2 separate regions of the Homo sapiens genome follow, and region 1 is linked to region 2. The links come from fine-mapping of genetic effects on gene expression. A gene starts in region 2. The other region holds a variant in brackets. All regions are shown on one strand. Distances are between the middles of the regions. Region 1 has its middle 8.8 kb from the start of H1-4. Region 2 holds the start of H2AC8 (H2A clustered histone 8).

Evidence for each region. PIP is the estimated chance that this variant, and not a neighbour inherited with it, causes the effect.
Region 1: its variant is the best candidate, but not a certain one, in a credible set for the expression of H2AC8 in whole blood (TOPMed, PIP 0.50).

Annotation. Positions count from the first base shown.
Region 1 is chr6:26,144,826-26,150,207 of GRCh38, forward strand. No RefSeq gene overlaps it. Among named protein-coding and RNA genes, the nearest start is that of H1-4, 8.8 kb to the right of the region's middle. The variant G/A (reference allele first, on the strand shown) is at 2,343.
Region 2 is chr6:26,213,926-26,219,307 of GRCh38, forward strand. It overlaps H2AC8 (H2A clustered histone 8), which reads left to right and starts at 2,996. Exons shown (of 1, transcript NM_021052.4): 1 at 2,996-3,512. The coding sequence starts at 3,050. The coding sequence ends at 3,442. H2BC8 (H2B clustered histone 8) reads right to left here and starts at 2,763. Exons shown (of 1, transcript NM_003518.4): 1 at 2,275-2,763. The coding sequence starts at 2,718. The coding sequence ends at 2,338. It also overlaps the pseudogene H3C5P. RefSeq lists enhancers at 1,877-2,006, 2,057-2,146, 2,227-2,576, 2,488-3,139, 3,007-3,426 and 2 more.

The DNA of each region.
Region 1 (5,382 bases), 69 kb before region 2:
AAACATGTTCCTCCATTAGTAGTTCTAAGCAAACGTGCCTCCAAAGGCCAAGGAAACTGAGAGGCATAAGAAGGATGATGAAAAATCAAGAAAGAAAATTTTAATAGGGACTTATAAACAGAAGCCATGTCTTCCATGGCATGTAGACAACTTGGTGAATTTGCCTACCTGCCATTACCCCACCCCAAACCCCAGGGCTTATAGATCACAGGGAATTTGCCTAAGGGCAGGATTTATAGTAAGTATGTGTTTACAATAATATCAAGATTGTTTTGACTTAAGGGCAGGATTTATGGTAAGTACAGGGAAGTAGAAATCTTAGAGGCATTCCCAGAACTGGGATTATTTAGAAGTCAATACAGCAGATTAGCATCTAAGATTGAGTTACTTTAGTCTCCACACTAGAAATTCAGAGACTTCATGTAACAGCAACTATGATTAAAAAAAAAAAAAAAAAAAAGGCTGGTGATCACCTAGAAAATAGAATGATGAATTGTTCACTGTATCTTTTCCACAGAGCAGAACGCAGTACACAAGTGTCCCTGGGATAGAGGAGCCGATTGGTCAGGAGACCACTGCTTGATGAAAATGTCTTTTATTACAACTCTATGCACAGAAATTATCTTCTAATTTGTATCTTTGCCTCCAGACCAGAATGTAATGCAATAAACACATCTCTAATACATATATTTTTTTTTTTGAGACGGAGTCTTGCTCTGTCGCCCAGGCTGGAGTGCAGTGGCGCGATCTCAGCTCACCGGAAACTCTGCCTCCTGGGTTCACGCCATTCTCCTGCCTCAGCCTCCTGAGTAGCTGGGACTACAGGCTCCCGCCACCACGCCCGGCTAATTTTTTGTATTTTTAGTAGAGACGGTGTTTCACCTGGTTAGCCAGGATGGTCTCGATCTCCTGACCTCGTGATCCGCCCGCCTCAGCCTCCCAAAGTGCTAGGATTATAGGCGTCAGCCACCGCGCCCGGCTCTGATACAAATTTTTTAAAATTTTTATTTTTATTTATTTATTTATTTATTTATTTATTTATTTATTTATTTATTTATTATTTTTGAGACGGAGTCTCGCTCTGTCGCCCGGGCTGCAGTGCAGTGGCGCGATCTCGGCTCACTACAAGCTCCGCCTCCCAGGTTCACGCCATTCTCCTGCCTCAGCCTCCTGAGTAGCTGGGACTACAGGCGCCCACCACCGCGCCCAGCTAATTTTTTGTATTTTTAGTAGAGACGGGGTTTCACCGTGTTAGCCAGGATGGTCTCGATCTCCTGACCTTGTGATCCGCCCGCCTCGGCCTCCCAAAGTGCTGGGATTACAGGCGTGAGCCACCGCGCCCGGCCTTCTGATACAAATTTTTAATATGAAGTGTATCTTTCATTATAAATTGATAAAGTAATGGTATGGCTTATAAACCTATCTCATGTGAATTTAGGTTTGAATAATCATAGTAATAGATATTCTTACTATGTGCAAGACATTGTTATAAGCACTTCAAAAATATTGTCTACTCCTACCAACAATCCTACTAAAGTAGGTAATAGTTGTAACCGTTAAGTTTTTGCCAAGCTATATAAAAACTCCCCACATCTTGGTGGATAATAACAAGAAGGGTTATTTCAGGCCCAAATTCTATTTCTGTATGGATCAGCAATGGCTCTGCTCCATATTTTCTTCATAGACAGACCCAGGCTGAGAGAAACTGACATAAAGGGATCTCAATGCTCTTAAAGATTCTGCAGGAAAGTAGACACATGGTACTTCTACTCATATTTTATTGACCAAAGCAACTCACTTACAAAGACTTATGTGTAGTAGGAAAGAGTGTTCCTTACATGGAGAGGAATATAGTAAACCCATATCAATGGGCAAGGATATATAATACTCCCAAAAAGGGCAGTAAAATCATGGGAGCAATAGTACAATTTACTACATATTCTTATCTAAATTTTAGGCATGAGAAAATTGAGAAATAGAGTTTAGGAAGTTTCTTAAAGTCACCTAGTAAACAATACAGGATTGAGATTGAAATGGAGTGGTCTGTCTCCATAACTCTGATACCCAGACTCCAAGATGGCTCAGTAAATTCTCACCTTCTAGTATTCACAGACTTGTATATCTTGTGTATCTCACTCCCAAATTGGATAGCTCTGACCTATGAAACTAATAAATATTGTGACTCCCAAGAGGTTAAGTCATAAATGATATCATGACTTCTGTTTTGCTGTCTCTTGAATCACTCTGGAGGAAGCCAGCTGCCATATATTGAACCCTTGTGTAGCCCTACAAAAGATGTCATGTGCCAAGGAACGGAAGTCTTCTGCTAATAGCCAACATCA[G/A]CTTTCTAGCCAGGTAAGCCATCTGGGAATTTTCCAGTCCCATTCTTCAGCTTAAGTCTGCAGATGACTAAAGTCCCAGCAAATAGCTTGCCTCCAATCTCATGACAGATCCCGTGTTGAAACTACAGTTCACTCACCCTCAAATTCCTGAATCATGGAAACCATGTGACATAATGAATTTTTCCTATTATTTTAAGCCACTAAATTTTGGGACAACTTGTTATGTAGCAATAGAGTCTATACCAGAGTCAATCTGTTTAAACACTATGCCAAGCTGCCACTCCATATAAATTAGTGATCATGTGTAAACAGATAATCCTTACATTTACAAACCAGCAAATTCATTTAATATAAGGGGGATGGAAAGGAAAAAGTAAAGAGATATTGAGGAAACAATAACAGGAAGTATCATAGATAAAGAGAGAAACTGAAAAACTGAAGATACACAAGAAGGCCAAATGCAATGTGTTCATTAAACCACCTCTTCCAAAGACAGAGGCCAGAACTTTGAATAAATAGATGCTGAAGAGATTCTTTGAAAAAATGATTATAGGTTCAATGTTAAAGTGAATGGAAAGGTTGCCAATATCTCCAAAACCAATGTTTTTCACCCTGCCGCCTATAACATAGTATTTCTTCAGTATTCTGATTGCTATTCATGAAGACAATTTAGTTGGTTGTGATCAGCTTTACTGAAATTAGAGAGGGGAAGGGAGAAGAGGGGAAAGGTGAGGAAGGGAGGAGAGGAATGCCCAAACATGGTCTCCACGTGCATCTTGGCTTTCACAGACCACAGTGGCCTCAGAATCATCAAATTTCTTATGAGATAGTTTAGAGACACAAGCCTGAAGAGTCAACAAAATTAAATAGGCCAGGTTATACAACCATGAGAATGTCCATGAGGAGTAGACTAGATAAGTAAATACATGGAGCCAAATTTATAATATAGAACAGCAATGCAAATCAACAAAATTGAGCTTTCTGCATCAATATAATAAAGAGGAATGGATCCTAGTGAAGGAAAAAAAGAGCAAGGCACACAATAATACACTATGATTTCACATATATGAATTTCAGAAACAGGACAAACTGAATCATACTGTTCATGGATACATATGTACATATACCTATAAAGAAAAAAAACTAGAAAATGATTTTAATAAAAGTTCAGATAATGGAGAGAAGGAGAGTACAAAGGGAATAGTATCTGGATGTCCAGGACACTAAGCAGACATTTTTTAAAAAATAAACTTTATCATATTTTTAAGAAAAACACATTGTTTGTTTTTGTTTTTTGTTTCTTTCTTTGAGACAGAGTCTCACATTGCCACCCAGGCTGGAGTGCAGTGGCAGGATCTTGGCTCACTGCAGCCTCCACCTCCCAGGTTCAAGAGATTCTCCCACCTCAGTCTCCTGAGTAGCTGTAATCCCCACCACCATGCCCAGCTAATTTTTTTGTATTATTAGTAGAGACAGAGTTTCACCATGTTGGCCAGGCTGATCTTGAACTCCTGACCTCAAGTGATCCGCCCACCTCAGCCTCCCAAAGTGCTGGGATTACAGGCGTGAGCCACCGTGCGCAGCTCTAGAAAGATGTTGTTTGTTAAAAAAGAAATCCATGCTGACAGTAGAAATTTTGAAAACACATAAAGGTTTAGATACAATAATAAAAATAATTTGTATTTCCACCACTATGGAGACTCTCTATATCACAGTTTGGTGTTTTGCATTGTTTCTTTTTACCACCTATGAAAAGTATTCTTTTTTTTTTTTTTTTTTTTTTGAGACGGAGTCTTGCTCTGTCACCCAGGCTGCAGTGCAGTGGCGTGATCTCCGCTCACTGCAAGCTCCGACTCCTGGGTTCACGCCATTCTCCTGCCTCAGCCTCCCGAGTAGCTGGGACTACAGGTGCCCGCCACCACGCCCGGCTAATTTTTTGTATTTTTAGTAGAGACGGGGTTTCACCGTGTTAGCCAGGATGGTCTTGATCTCCTGTCCTCGTGATCCGCCCGCCTCGGCCTCCCAAAGTGCTGGGATTACAGGCGTGAGCCACCACGCCCGTCGGAAAGTATTCTAACATGGCAAAATCCTAAGAGAATTATTTTTGCAAAAAATTGTGAAAAAAAGTTGCAAATAGAGTATACAATGTTTCTTATTTTCAGCAACTGTTTTCCTGTAATGTTAATGTTTTACATAACCATATACAATGATCAGAAATAGGAAGTAGACATTGGTAAAATATTAACTAAACTTCTGACCCATTCAAATATCACACATCTTCCCCCTAATGTTCTTTTTCTGTGTCAGAATCCTATTCTGGATCCCCCACTGAATTTAGTCACTGCTTGTTTCTTAGACTCTTTAAGTCTGTATTAGTTCTGCTGTCTGTTCTTATATTTATGATGTTCACACTTCTGAAGAGTGCTGATGAGTTATTTTGAAGAATATCCCTTGATGATTGTCCTTTTTTTTCCACTGGAGTGAGTTTCTGGGTTTTTGACAGGAAATACTACCAAAATGATAAAATGTCCTTCTCAATGCAATGAGTTTATGAAACACATATGCCTTGTTGCTTTGTGATGTTTACTTTACTTAGTTAAGGTGGTGATTGCTAGGATTCTTCAATGTAAACTTACTATCTTTTCCTTTGTAGTTGATAAGGTAACTTGGAGAAACAAATCATGCGTCTTAAAATTTGCCCACTAATTTTAGCATCCATTGATGGATTTTATGTGAAACAAGATCACTATATTCTTTGCCGGCCGGGCGCGGTGGCTCAAGCCTGTAATCCCAGCACTTTGGGAGGCCGAGGCGGGCGGATCACGAGGTCAGGATATCGAGACCATCCTGGCTAACACGGTGAAACCCCGTCTCTACTAAAAATACAAAAAATTAGCCGGGCATGGTGGTGGGCACCTGTAGTCCCAGCTACTCGGGAGGCTGAGGCAGGACAATGGCGTGAAACCGGGAGGCGGAGCTTGCAGTGAGCCAAGATCACATCACTGCACTCCAGCCTGGGCGACAGAGCGAGACTGCGTCT
Region 2 (5,382 bases):
TAGCTTTTGTACTCCACAAAGACAAACACACAGAACACAGATGCACACCCACCCCTACTGTATGTTGTAGGGGAGGAAAGAGCGTTTCCTTTTACCCATCTTATGTTCATTGGCTGGGGCCCTGAAACAAAATACAGATTAACAACAGAAAAATATACACTTTATTTTTATTTTGATTTATTTATTTATTTTTGAGACGGAGTCTTGCTCTGTCGCCCATGCTGGAGTGCAGTTGCCCGATCTTGGCTCACGGCAAGCTCCACCTCCCGGCTTCATGGCATTCTCCTGCCGCAGTCTCCCGAGTAGCTGGGACTACAGGTGCCCGCCACCACACCCGGCTAATTTTTTTCAATTTTCAGTAGAGACGGGGTTTCACCGTGTTAGCCAGGATGGTCTCGATCTCCTGACCTCGTGATCCGCCCGCCTCGGCCTCCCAAAGTGCTGGGATTACAGGCGTGAGCCGGCGTGAGCCACCGCGCCCGGCCAAGAGAAAAACATTCACATTTAATATGAAGTTTTACATGACATAAGGAAATAAGGACCTGAAGAAGGGCTTAAACCTGAGTGTGTTTGCACTAGGTTTGATGAAGAGAGTCATGCAGAAATATAACAAGACAAAAATAATATGAGCTAAGGATAATAAACAAGGAGAAATCTAGCAAGGTTTATTTGTTCAGATTCCTCGCATACTCTGCAAGACTCCCAGGAGGGTCTTAAGACCTGCTTCAGAGGAAGGTCATACGAACATTCTTGTCTATGTTGTTCTACTAATGTCTTAGAATATTTACTATGTCAAGGCGCCATACTTTGGAGTACTATGTTGTCAGAAACCTGAGGTTGCTCATGGAGTACTATGGAGTAGTGACCTTTTTTTTTTTTTTGGTCCCATTTTAGAAATTTGATTAATGAGTATAAACTAATGGTTTCTATGTTTGAGACGGAGTTTCGTTCTTGTTGTCCAGGCTGGAATGAAATGGCGGGATCTTGGCTCACTGCAACCCCCGCCTCCCGGTTTCAAGCGTTTCTCCTGCCTCAGTCTCCGAAGTAGCTGGGGTAACATAGGCATGCGCCACCACGCCCGGCTAATTTTGTTATTTTTAGTAGATACGGGGTTTCACCATGTGGGTCAGGCTGTTTTTGAACTCCTGACCTCAAGTGATCCACCAGCCTCGCCTCCCAAAATGCTGGGATTACAGGCGAGAGCCACTGCGCCCAGCCAGCCAAAACTGTAATTTTTTTTTTTTTTTTTTTTTTTTTTTTTTTATGAGATGGAATCTAGCTCTTTCGCCCAGGATGGAGTGCAGTGGCGCGATCTCTGATCACTGCAACCTCCGCCTCCCGGGTTCAAGTGACTCTCCAGCCTCAGCTTCCAGAGTAGCTGAAACTACAGGTGAGTGCCACCACGCCCGGCTAATTTTGTTTGTATTTTTTTAGTAGAGACAGGGTTTCACAGTGTTAGCCAGGATGGTCTCGACCTCCTGACCTCGTGATCCGCCCGTCTCGGCCTCCCAAAGTGATGGGATTAGAGGCGTGAGCCACCGCGCACGGCGGAAAACGAGATTTTTTAGATCAACTTTACATTGCCAATGCCCATGGTATTCCCTCCACAACAAACTCCACAAGAGTGCTCAGAAAAGTCAAACTTGTTATCAGGTGATCTTTAGGGACCCAAAGACTACTCTTCCTACCCTTTCCAGTGTTGCCCAGGCTGGAATTGCACTAGCGTATTCACATGTTCCTGCAGTCTCTAGCCCGAGAGTTTAAGCTATCCTACCACCTCAGCCTACCGAGTAAATGATAGTACAGACGCAAGCCGTCACACCTGGTTAGCTTCATTTTTTTGCAGAGACGAGTTCTATGTTGCCCAGGCAAATCTGTTAACTCCTGAGCTGAAGAAAGCCTCATGCATCGACCTCCCAAAGTGCTAGGATTACAGGATCTTGCCAACACAGAACAGGAGTATCTCCTGATCAATTTTTTTTGAGACGAAGCCTCGCCTTTGTCGCCCAGGCTAGAATGCAAAAGCGCCATGTCTTTTCACTGCAACCTTTGCTTGCTGGGTTTAAGTGATTCTCCTGCGGCAGCCTCCCGAGTCTCTGGGATGACACGCGACTGCCCCACGCCCGGCTAATATTTGTATTTTTAGTAGAAACGAGATTTAACCACGTTAGCCAAACTGGTCTCGATCCGCACGCCTCGGCCTCCCAAAGTGCTGGGATTACAAAATCGGAAAAATTATTCCCTAGAAAACGGTGAAATTCAATATTAAAGCTCTTTATGTGAGACTTGAGTGGCTCTGAAAAGAGCCTTTGAGTTTTAAAGCACCTAAGCACACATTTACTTGGAGCTTGTATACTTGGTGACAGCCTTGGTACCTTCGGACACTGCGTGCTTGGCCAGCTCTCCGGGAAGCAGCAGACGCACGGCGGTCTGGATCTCCCTGGAGGTAATGGTCGAGCGCTTGTTGTAGTGGGCCAGACGGGAAGCCTCGCCTGCGATGCGTTCGAAGATGTCGTTAACGAAGGAATTCATGATGCCCATGGCCTTGGATGAGATGCCAGTATCGGGGTGAACCTGTTTTAGCACCTTGTACACATACACGGAGTAGCTCTCCTTACGACTGCGCTTGCGCTTCTTGCCATCCTTCTTCTGCGCCTTGGTCACAGCCTTCTTGGAACCCTTCTTCGGAGCAGGAGCTGACTTAGCTGGTTCAGGCATGCTGTCAGAAAACAATAACAGCAGTGAGAATGAACGCACTTAAATAAAAGCTCGTGTCTAGAGTCTCTCCTTTTATAGGCCTTTCATGCAAATAAAGAATTCAAAATATCCAGCTCTGATTGGGCAATGTGTTAGTGACGCATACATGTAAAATAGCCTTCACCTTATTTCCTTTCTAATTGGTTGGCTCGTCAAAGAACAATTTTAACCAATCAAATTGCGCCTTTCACAATTCTACCGATGACTATAACTAGCTTCTTATTCCTCCATCGAGCCCATTCTTTTTCTTTATTCAGTGGATTGTTAGTTCTTCTGCTGTTAGGAAGCCACTATGTCTGGACGTGGAAAGCAAGGCGGCAAAGCTCGGGCAAAAGCTAAAACGCGTTCTTCCAGGGCCGGTCTTCAGTTTCCAGTTGGCCGTGTGCACCGCCTCCTCCGCAAAGGCAACTACTCCGAACGAGTCGGGGCCGGCGCTCCAGTGTACCTGGCAGCGGTGCTGGAATATCTGACGGCCGAGATCTTAGAGCTAGCTGGCAACGCGGCTCGCGACAATAAGAAGACCCGCATCATCCCGCGCCACCTGCAGCTAGCCATCCGCAACGACGAGGAGCTAAATAAGCTTCTAGGTCGCGTGACCATCGCGCAGGGCGGTGTCCTGCCCAACATCCAGGCCGTATTGCTGCCTAAGAAGACGGAGAGCCACCATAAGGCCAAGGGCAAGTGAAATGATTACTAGTCAAATCCGTCAGTGATCCCGAGTCCCAGAAACCAAAGGCTCTTTTCAGAGCCACCCACCTTTTCTGTAAAGTGCTGGAATACACATACGATGCCTGAAATCTCAATGTTCACTGTCCTAATTTTTAACGAACGCTTCTGACGTTACTGGTCAGTTCTTTATTGAAATCCTTGCTCACATTTCATGCACTAATTTATCTTACTGGTGTTTCTTTGCAGTAAAAATGCGTTTATAAAGGTATACAAGAATAGAAACCGAGGTTGTGACACCAAGGTTTCACTGCGTTATTTTGTGTATAGGTCCATGCTGTGTATACAAATTTATCATTAATACACAGGCTGTTTATTCATGTGCACTTGTCAGAAAAGGGTGAAATATTAATACAGAAACGAGAGAACAAAGAAGGATAGCTGCCCATTAGCATTTCAGGGCGGGCTTTTTAAGTTTTAAAGATGACTGCATTCCGGCTGGGCTCAGTGGCTCATGCCTGTAATCCCAACACTTTGGGAGGCCAAGGAGGGCGGATCATAGGGTCAGGAGTTCGAAATCAGCCTGCCCAACATAATGAAAGCCCGTCTCTACTAAACAAATACAAAAAGTAGCCGGGCGTGGTGGTGTGCATCTGTAGTCCCAGCAACTTGGGAGGCTGAGGCAGGAGAATCGCTTGACTCCGGGAGGCAGAGGCTGCAGTGAGCCGAGATCACGCTATTGCACTCCAGCCTGGGTAACAGAGCAAGACTACGTCTCAAAAAAAAAAAAAAAAAAAAAGACTACATTCCTCTAGTGAGAATTGTGTTTGTTGGATTTCTCTTTTCAAAAGGAGCAATTAACACAGTATTCTAAAATAAACACTAAACGAAACTAAGCAGTAACGGCCTGACGCCCTAGGTCAGACCTGTAATCCCAGCAATTTGAAAGACTAAGGCAGAAGAATCGCTTGAGCCCAGGAGATCAAGACCAGCCTGGGCAATAAAGCGAGACAGCCCCCTCACCTCCACAAAAAGTAAAAAGCCTGCCCTGCCCGGTGGCTCATGCCTATAATCCCAGCACTTTGGGAGGCCGAGATGGGCGGATCACTTGAGGTCAGGAGTTCGAGGCCAGCCTGGCCAACGTGGCAAAACCCTGTTTCTACTAAACATACAAAAAAATTAGCCAGGCATGGCGGTGGGCTCCTGAAATCCCAGCTACTCGGGAGGCTGAGGCAGGAGAATCGCTTGAACCCGGGAGGCGGGGGTTGCAGTGAGCCAAGATCATGCCATTGCACTCCAGCCTGGACAATAGAGCGAGACTCCGTCGTCTCAAAAAAAAAAAAGAAAAGAAAAGAAAAAGCCTGGCCTGGTGGCTCAGTCTGAGATCTTAGATACTTGGGAGAATTACGCGGGGAAGGATTGATTGAGCCCAGGAGTTCGAAGCTGCAGCGAGCTATGGGGGGCAAAGCAAGATCCTGTTTAGGAAAGGAAAAAAAAAAAAAAACAAAAAAAACCCAGCAGCAAAAACTTAGTTTTATGACCTAAATTTATAAATGGACTACACTGTAAAGCACAATTAATTATTCAACTTTAGTAGAAATCCAGTCACATTTCTCTGTAAAAAATCTCAAATCTAATTGGATCACACACCAGGCCCTATAAAGAGAAGTGATCTGTAAATCTGATATGAAAGGTCATGGCCTGCACCAAGCCAACCACACGGAAGTCCACTGGTGGCAGACAGCCTCCTAAGCAGCTGGCCACCAAGGCAGCCAGCAAGAGCACTCTGGCCACCAGCAGCTTGAAGGTGTCCCTCAGATATAGGCCCTGAATCATGCTGAAATTCATCGCTACCAGAAGTCACTGAGCTACTTAAGGGAAAAGCTGCCCTTTCTTAAATGTTAGGACAAGGTTGCTGAATGAGATTATTAAAAAAATTAATGCCCCTAGGGTTCTAAA